Linked DNA regions of Homo sapiens: region 2 is linked to region 1. The links come from fine-mapping of genetic effects on gene expression. Tissue or cell type: blood mononuclear cells. Region 1 holds a variant in brackets; the other region holds the start of a gene. Each region is shown on its reference strand, or each on the opposite one. Region 1 overlaps MGA (MAX dimerization protein MGA). Region 2 holds the start of SYCP2 (synaptonemal complex protein 2).

What was found. PIP is the estimated chance that this variant, and not a neighbour inherited with it, causes the effect. A credible set is the group of variants that fine-mapping cannot tell apart.
Region 2: SYCP2 starts here. The variant in region 1 is the best candidate, but not a certain one, in a credible set for the expression of SYCP2 in blood mononuclear cells (TOPMed, PIP 0.53).

The regions. Positions count from the first base shown.
Region 1 is chr15:41,737,564-41,741,955 of GRCh38, forward strand. MGA (MAX dimerization protein MGA) reads left to right here. Exons shown (of 24, transcript NM_001400225.1): 14 at 2,343-2,640. Among named protein-coding and RNA genes, the nearest start is that of MAPKBP1, 35 kb to the right of the region's middle. The variant C/G (reference allele first, on the strand shown) is at 2,622.
Region 2 is chr20:59,931,456-59,935,808 of GRCh38, forward strand. SYCP2 (synaptonemal complex protein 2) reads right to left here and starts at 2,182. Exons shown (of 45, transcript NM_014258.4): 1 at 2,114-2,182; 2 at 607-699. It also overlaps a transcript of FAM217B not described here. RefSeq lists a silencer at 2,473-2,872.

The DNA.
Region 1 (4,392 bases):
ACTGTTGTAGGACAAATACCTTTATCCTTGATACTTAGTAATTCACGCAGGTTGTATTAGTAAAATTATACTGGCATATAGAAAATTTGAAAAGAGACGTTCTGAATTAATGTCATAGTCAGAAAAGGTTTTTCTAGCTGAGCGCAGTGGCTTACGCCTGTAATCCCAGCACTTTGGGAGGCCGAGGTGGTGGATCACCTAAGGCAAGGAGTTTGAGACTAGCCTGGCCGACATGGCAAAACCCCATTTCTACTAAAAATAAAAAAGTTAGCCCGGCGTGGTGGCGCGCGCCTGTAATCCCAGCTTCTTGAGAGGCTGAGGCAGGAGAATCATTTGAACCTGGGAGGTGGAGGTTGCAGTGAGCTGAGATTGTGCCACTGTATTCCAGCTTGGGCAACAGAGGGAGATTGTCTCAAAAAAAAAAAAGTGCACTTTTATATTAGAGTAGCAAATGTGTGGAAGTGTCTGATATTATTGCAAAGTTAGCTTGACTTTCATTAGATTGGCTGCTTCTAAGTCACTAAGGACTTCTCCATTAATAATATGATTGATATAGGCTGGGCATGGTGGCTCACACCTGTAATACCAGCACTTTGGGAGGTGAAGGCGGGTAGATCATGAGGTCAGGAGTTCAAGACCAGCCTGACCAACATGGTGAAACCCCATCTCTACTAAAAATACAAAAATTAGCCGGGCATGGTGGCGTGTGCCTGTAATCCCAGCTAGGAGGCTGAGGCAGGAGAATCGCCTGAACCTGGGAGGCAGAGGTTGCAGTGAGCCGAGATCACGCCACTGCATTCCAGCCTGGGCGACAGAGTGAGACTCCATCTCAAAAGAGAAAATAATATTAATATGATTGATCTACTTAATTAAAAAACTTATTATTGCAGTTTACTGTTGTGCATGCTATGTAAATGCTTCTGTTGATATTTCTTATACTCTTGATGAGGAGAACAGTATTTTCTCTACCTTATATATTGATTGACACTTTGAAAACAGAGGTTTGCCTGATACAATTTCTAGTGAGACTAGACTCCCTAAAATACAAGCATGGAAATTTTTTGTTGTCTTCTGCCCAGGACTCACAAAGCCACCATAGAATGTGTCTGCATAAGCAGTCAGGCAACTGTAAACTTTGTAAACTTTGGGGAAGCTGCAGAGTAGGCTTCAGCGCAGTCCCAAGGGATCCGGGAGGGGGTATCTGACCTATTTCTGTATAGCCTGAAAAGTTACAGTAAAGTCTACTTTCAGGGGGAATGATCACATTCTTTGTACCAAACTCAAGGCAGAGATATTCTTGATCTCTGTGGGAATAATCACAATTTAACCAAAGTAGCAAAGAGTAATTTTGTTTTGTGTCTCTGAAGATGGAGTTGCTTGCTGTAGCTGGTCTCCTCACCAGTTCCCTGTTAGAGAGTAGATTCTACCTCACTCCATCTCCCCCAACCCCCGATTTTGAAATGGTGAAAAGGAAATATAGAAAAGGTTATCTTCTCTAGAGTTGCCTGGCAATATGACCTAGAGAACATGGGTAGAGACTTGGGAAGTTTTTGTTTTCTTTCTTTAAAAAAAAAAGAAAAGAAATCAACCCCCACAAAAAACAACTGTGCTGGTACCCATGATGGGCAGTCTGATAAACTCAGGCAGCAGAGGGGATCTTTACTTCATTTGTTGGTTCACTTTCTTCTGACTATTTAGTTAATTATGTCTAGAATAAGAATGAGTTCGTACCAACATTCAGTTTGAACCCATGTTTTATCCAAGAGATGAAAATAGTATTTTCAAAGCTAAGCTTTTTGAAAATGAAAAACTGTGAGGTAATTGTGGCTTAGGTTATTGCAACAATGATTGTCTTATAACTTAAAGTAGATTTCACTTATATTTTTCAAATATGAAGGATGCTTGAAAGGACCCTTGTGTGAGAGCTTCATTATGTCTCTCTGGTCTTATCAGAGAGATTCTGTGGGACACTCATTTTTGCTGATGAGGTTAATAGCTTAACCAGAATGCCTTATTTACAAGGAAAACAATTGGATAATTCTAGTTGTTTAGATTTGATGATAACTTTCACATAACTAGGATGCAGAAATGATGAGTTTCCGATTCTCTATTTTCAAACTACAATATGAAGGAGATGAGATTAGTTCAGAATATCAGTTGACAGCATTTTTCTACCTTCTGATTACTCAGATTATTCTAAATGGAAAAAGTCTACTTCTTTTTCCCTTTTAAATCTGAAAAATAGACTTATGAAAACTTGTAAAAATGAAGCCCCTGTCAAGGGAGAGGAGTTAGCAAGAGAATTTTATCTTTACAGAATTTCTCTTTGCCACTTGTTTCAGGTTAATGGTAAGAGTTACCCGCAGGCTAAGTTGCTATTGGGACAGATGGGGGCATTGCATCCAGCCAATAGGCTAGCTGCTTATATCACAGGCAGGTTGCGACCCTCAGTCCTGGACCTCTCAACCCTCAGTACTGTCATCTCCAAGGTAGCATCCAATGCCAAGGTGGCTGCATCCAGGAAACCACGTACCCTGTTGCCTTCAACATCCAATTCCAAAATGGCATCCTCCTCTGGCACTGCAACAAATCGCCCTGGGAAGAATCTGAAGGCGTTTGTC[C/G]CAGCAAAACGGCCAATTGGTAAGTTGGGGTGTATGTATGGTTTGGAAAGGCCTATGACTTGGTGGTGGGACAGTGGGTACAGGTATGGAGGTTGTAAAAATTAGAGAAATATGTACTTTGGCATTATTCTTATTCTTGTTGTCTGTCTTGCCTGGACTTTTTTGATTGTTTGGGGTTAACGTCTGATAACCTGCAATATTAGATGAATTGAGTTGTTTTATAGTTAATTTCTTGGTTTTATATATATTTTTTATTTTTTAATAACACTGACTTGAAGGCAAGTTTTATAGTTATTTTTAAGGTTTTCAGACTGGTTGTTATTAATGTAGAAAAGACTTAAGGATTTTAATTTTGTTTCTAAAAAGGGAAGACATTTAAAAATAGTTTACTATTATACTAAATTATTTACTAAAATATTTTACTAAATTAAAAATAGTTTACTATTTTCCTGTGAGGACTGGTGTTTCTGGCCTCTTGTTGAACTCTTGCTGGTGCTATGTAAATGCTTCTGTTGATACTTCTTAAACTTATGAAACCAAGGAGCTAGCAAAAGCTAGTGGTGTAAGTAGTATAGGCTTAAAGTGGAAAGCTCCTATAAATACAATTTTGAAAGTGTTGATTTATTCCATTCATCTCTGTTCTATGAATGAAAATCTCTCTTTTCCTTAACATTTAAATGCTGAAGTCTGTAATAAATTACCTTCTTGAAACATTTGTGTTTTAGCATTGAGAGTATCTATAGTTGGTTTATTGAATTCCTCTTTTTGTTGTTTCAAATCTGTTAGGAATGTTAGGTAAGAGTGTCAGTTGAAATCTCTGGCTGAATGGTTAGAGTTGTGTGAAGATAGAAGATATTTATTGTTTGCCTTAAAACCTATTTTGGCCGGGCGCGGTGGCTCACTCCTGTAATTCCAGCACTTTGGGAGGCCGAGGCGGGTGGATCACGAGGTCAAGAGATAGAGACCATCCTGGCCAACATGGTGAAACCCCATCTCTACTAAAAATACAAAAATTAGCCGGGAGTGGTGGCATGCGCCTGTAGTCCCAGCTACTGGGGAGGCTGAGGCAGGAGAATCACTTGAACCCGGGAGGCAGAGGTTGCAGTAATCCGAAATCGTGCCACTGCACTCCAGCCTGGTGACAGAGTGAGACTCCATCTCCAAAAAAAAAAAAAAAAAAAAAAGAATCTATTTTACCTTTTATTAAGGCAGCTTCAGTTGTGATTAAGGGGAGTAAAAAAAGCAATCCTATCCTGATCTGTTTGGAGAAATGTCTTTATATATTTTAGGAATATGTAATACGTAAGCATCTCATAATAGCACAGCTGTAAAGAGGTGAGAGTGCTCAGACAGGAGGAAATGGTAGAAACAAGTTTTTACATTAGAAATTGGGGGAAACAAACCCTCTCATTTTCTTTTATCTGTATTAGGTGATGAAGTTTTTGCTACTGTATTGTCTTTTTAGTATCCTGACAGTTTGAATATATTGCACAGTCAAAAGAATTTTAGTAGGAACACTCTATTTAATTTTTTAATTTTTCTTTCAAGACAGAGTCTTGCTCTGTCTCCCAGGCTGGAGTGCAGTGGCACTATCTCATTTCACTGCAGCATCCACCTCCTGGGTTCAAACCATTCTCCTGCCTCAGCCTCCTGAGTAGCTGGGATTACAGGCACGTGCCACCATGCCCTGGTAATTTTTGTATTTTTAGTAGAGACGGGGTTTCACCGTGTTGGCCAGGCTGGTCTTGAACTCCTGACCTCGTGATCTGCC
Region 2 (4,353 bases), not on the chromosome of region 1:
TGAAATTTGAGACTATTTTATTTTACAATGTGAAAACTTGATTTAAAACTTTAAATACTTAAAATATGTTGTGGGGGCTCCATTTATACTCTTACCCTAGGGCCAGCAACTGTTGAGGCAGGCTTGCCCATTAGCTATGCTTTATCTGTTTTCAGAACTAAAGCAATTTGAAACAGTGTATTTTACAAAATGCCCTGAGACATTAATTACAGCACAGAAAAAAGTACAGCCAAAGAGGCACATAAAGCTAACAAGATGGTTTTAGTTTCTAATCTACTTTTGCACGAAGTCAGTTGGGGAAAAACAAACCAAGGAAAGCAAACTGAATAATCAGGTTACACACACACACACACGCATGCCTCAAAGCTGAATGCATACAGGCCACAATAGAGTCAAAAGCACAGCACTATCCACAACATCAAACAAGTTAACATTTGCAAGTGAAAGAGAAGGCTAACTCTAAAAAGAAACAAAAGTTATACACTTATTTTTTCCAGCCTCATAAGGAAACAATTTAAAAGATCTTTAGGAACTACTACTATGTAACAGAACGACTTCGGAAACCGAGAACAGAATAATAATGTTTCAAGAGAAGCGTGGATTTACCTGACAAGTAAGCAGGCTCTGGGCTCCAGTCTACTGAACTGGGGGACTGGTTAGCGAGCAACACAGAGAACTAGTAAGATGATGATTGTGTATCTGCAGGCAGATAAAAGCGTTACGGATAAAAACAACAACAAAGAAAACAATTTGGCAGATGGGGGAGGCAAAGATTTTCCCCCAAAGGAAAAACTGCTGAATGAATGCAAGCAGCAGTAGATAATTCAAAGTCCCCTCTGCCCTGGTAACTAACATAGCTAAGGTGTCCAAAAAGACATTAAAGGTGAATGAAGGGGAGGGAAGGCGTCCTCCTCCTCCCATCATTACTAAAAAATGTAGGCCGGGCGAGGTGGCTCACACCTGTAATCCCAGCACTTTGGGAAGCCGAGGCAGGTGGATCACCTGAGGTCAGGAGTTCGAGACCAGCCGGGCCAACATGGAGAAAACCCGTCTCTACTAAAAATACAAAATTAGCTGGGCGTGGTGGCGCGCCAAGTAGTCCCAGTTACTCCGGAGGCTGAAGCAGGAGAATCGCTGGAACCCGGAAGATGGAGGTTGCAGTGACGCGAGATCGCACCACTAAACTCCAGCCTGGGTGACAGAGCGAGACTCCGTCTCGGGAAAAAAAACAACAAAAAAAAACCACGCTGCCGTATTCGCAGATGCTCGGCCAGCCTGGAGCCCGGTCCAGAAAAGGCCGCACGTGGAGCCACGTGTCGCGCATTGAGCCGCCGCGGGACGCATCAGGCCCAGCTGCGCGGAGGGGCTGGCGGCCTCAACCGCAAGGAGAGGCCGCAGGTGGGGACGGCGGGAGGGAGAGAAGGGACTGAAGGCGCCGAGCAGGAGGAAGGTTTTGCGCGCACTCCCTTCTTCCCTAAGTGGAACCGGCAGTGGCAACAACGAGGCCGAAGGCGAAGTCCCTGCTCCCACCGCCGGCACGGTGACCCTTTTCCCAGGGTCACCCCCGAACCAACAAAGCACACACACACCCGAGATGCGCCCCAGGCCGCAGCGCCAACCCCCCTTCAGATGTCCCGGAGACAGGCGAGCAGCGGTCCCCAGGGCTCCCGTCGCCACCGCTTCTCCCGCACCCCTCAGCCTCCTCGGGCCGGCGACGCGCGCAGCCCCAGGCCTGCTCCCCGCTCGCCAAGCGCACCGCCCCGCGCCTCAGCCACCTTGACCGAGTCGCCCACGCGCGGGGGCGGCTCCGAGCGCCCATTTCCCATCCCCGAGGCCGAGGCTGGCCAGGCAGGTGCTGATGGGGAGCCTCGCGCCTGCGCGAGCCACCCTCGCCGCGAACTCTGCACAGCCCACGCCCTGGCCCAGCCTCGGCGCCTCCCCTCCGCCCACTGCCGCAGAACCGCACCCCCTCCCCCTCGGCAGCTTCCACAACGGCTCCGCCTCAACCGTCGGAAGCTTCTCGCCTGCCGGCTTGAAAGGCCAAGCCGAAGCCCCACCCTCCCTCCGCGCCCCGCCGTGGGGGAAGCCCACCCAGGCACTCTGCTCAACCTGCCTGCGGCAGGAGGCGTCCGCGTAGTGTCGGTGGAGCCGCCCCCTATGCCGCCGAGCGTCGCAACTCTGCGCCTCAGGGACCGCCGCAGCGCCTCCGGCGAACGGCGGAAGGCGGGAAGCGCCCGTCCAATCCGCGCCAGGTGCGGTCGATAGTGCGTCCAATCGGCGTCGCCGCCAGCCAGGTCCCGCCCCCCCCATCCCCCCCACCCCCGCCAACGCTCGCCGGGGTCGCCCGAGGCCTGAGCCAAGGGGGACGCTGTGGGCGCGGCTCAGGCCAGGCCCTCAGGTTAGTGGGTCCCCGCTGTCCCCGCGCTTCGGCCCGTCCTCTCGCGCTATGCTCTCCTGATGAACGCCCCGCGAGCGGAGTCACCCCCGCCAGCGAGGAGACTCGCTGCCTTGACTGGGGCCCTGGTCCCGGGACAGGCGAGCAGGAAGGGATGGAAGGGACGGAAGCGCGGGCGGGACCAGGAGAAGCCCATCCCCGCGCTATGCGTCCCCAGAGCCACTGGGACCCGCGGCTCCAGCCAGCCCTGCAGGGGCGAGCTGGACCGGGGGACCAGGGCGCCGGGCCGACGACTCCTGGGTGAGGCCTGGCTCCTGCCGGCAGGGGGCGCAGGGCCGCCTGGGCTCCTGGGTGCGGGTGCCGGAGGGCGGGAGAGACCGCAGGTCCGGAGACGGGGTGCTGAGCTGGGTACCCAACTGTGTATTCCTAGGCTCTTTCAGACGCTTCCATTTAAGAGATCCGTTTAACTTATGCAGCCAGCGGGTGCTTGTGTAAAAAATCGCAGGCCCTTCTGAGACAGGCACAGCCGCGAAAGGGTCTCCTTGCCCCTTGGCTCGCAGAGGGCGTCGGTGTTCGGCGCTCAGTCTTCTGCGTGTTTTCCCCGTGCTCGCGTTCTGAGATGGAAACTGTTCCACGTGCACTGAGATGCAGCTCGGTCTTTCTAACAGCTTCGTAATTATTTAATCATGTGGATTAACTTCATCCGAGGAATTCAATCCTCCACTGATGAGCCTACACTTCTATTACAAATAATACTGCAGCAAACCACCTTTGGATTAATATTTGTGTCGGATCAATTTTTAAAAGTTGAATTGTATGTGTAGTTAAACTTTTATAGGTATCTTCAAATCAAAATTTAAAATTATATTTTAATAACATTTTAATTTCTTATCTAAAAGGCACTAATTGTTTAAAAATATGGGATTAAGATTTAAATGTGCGGTGGAAAGCACCTGAAAAAAATAAACACAAGGTAATAGAATCAAAGCTCAGTTGTGGACCAGAGCAGATCAAATCACAGTAAATAAGCTCTCAGAGGTGTTTTAAATATTCTGCTTAGCTAGAATTACCAACTTCTTGACAACTTTGTAACTACCCCCATTGAACTTAATTTTGATATCTTAGTTTTTTAATTCAGAGCTGACAGATTACATATGCAATCTAAGGTACACAGGTGTACGCAGGGATTTGAGGGGATTTTATATGTTCAAAGCTTTCAATGCTTTTGAATTATACGTTTAAGTACTAATAATGTATAACACAAAATGTAAGAAGATCGAAGAGTGCTTCAAAATTGTGACCTGGCAATTTTGCATAATTATTTTCATACCTAGTTTTCCGCCAATAGATCTAAGATCCTTCATGGTGGAGTTGCGAACGCACAGAAATTTTCCTAATACACTTCAAAAATTAATAGTGATGATTTTTTACCTTGCCGCTTTTTAGTTGAAGAAAAATGTTAGTCTTTTTTATTGCTTCATGTGTTCAGGAAGCCTGCGGATTATTTAGTAAACATCCGTAAACTACAACATGGAAGAAAAAAAGGATATCATTAATTTTACTGTTAATTTTTTTTAAAGGTTTTAGACCGTGGCATTTCATGAAAAACCTTCTCAATTATAATCAAAATTTGGAAACTATGTGCCGTGGTTCACACATATACTCCCTGCACTTTGGGAGGCTGAGTTGATGGGATTGCTTGAGGCCAGGAATTTGAAACTAGCCTGGGCAACATAGCTAGGCCCTATCTCTACAAAAAAACAAAATTAGCCAGGCGTGGTGGCATGTGCCTGTGCACCTAGCTGCTCTACGCCGGAGGCTGAGGTAGGAGAATTCTGCTTGAGCCCAGGAGCTGGAGGCTGCAGTGAGCTATGATTGCACCACTGCACTCCAACGTTGGTGACAAGGCAAGACCTTCTCTCAAAAAAGAGAAATATCATAATGTGGCGTTCAATTAA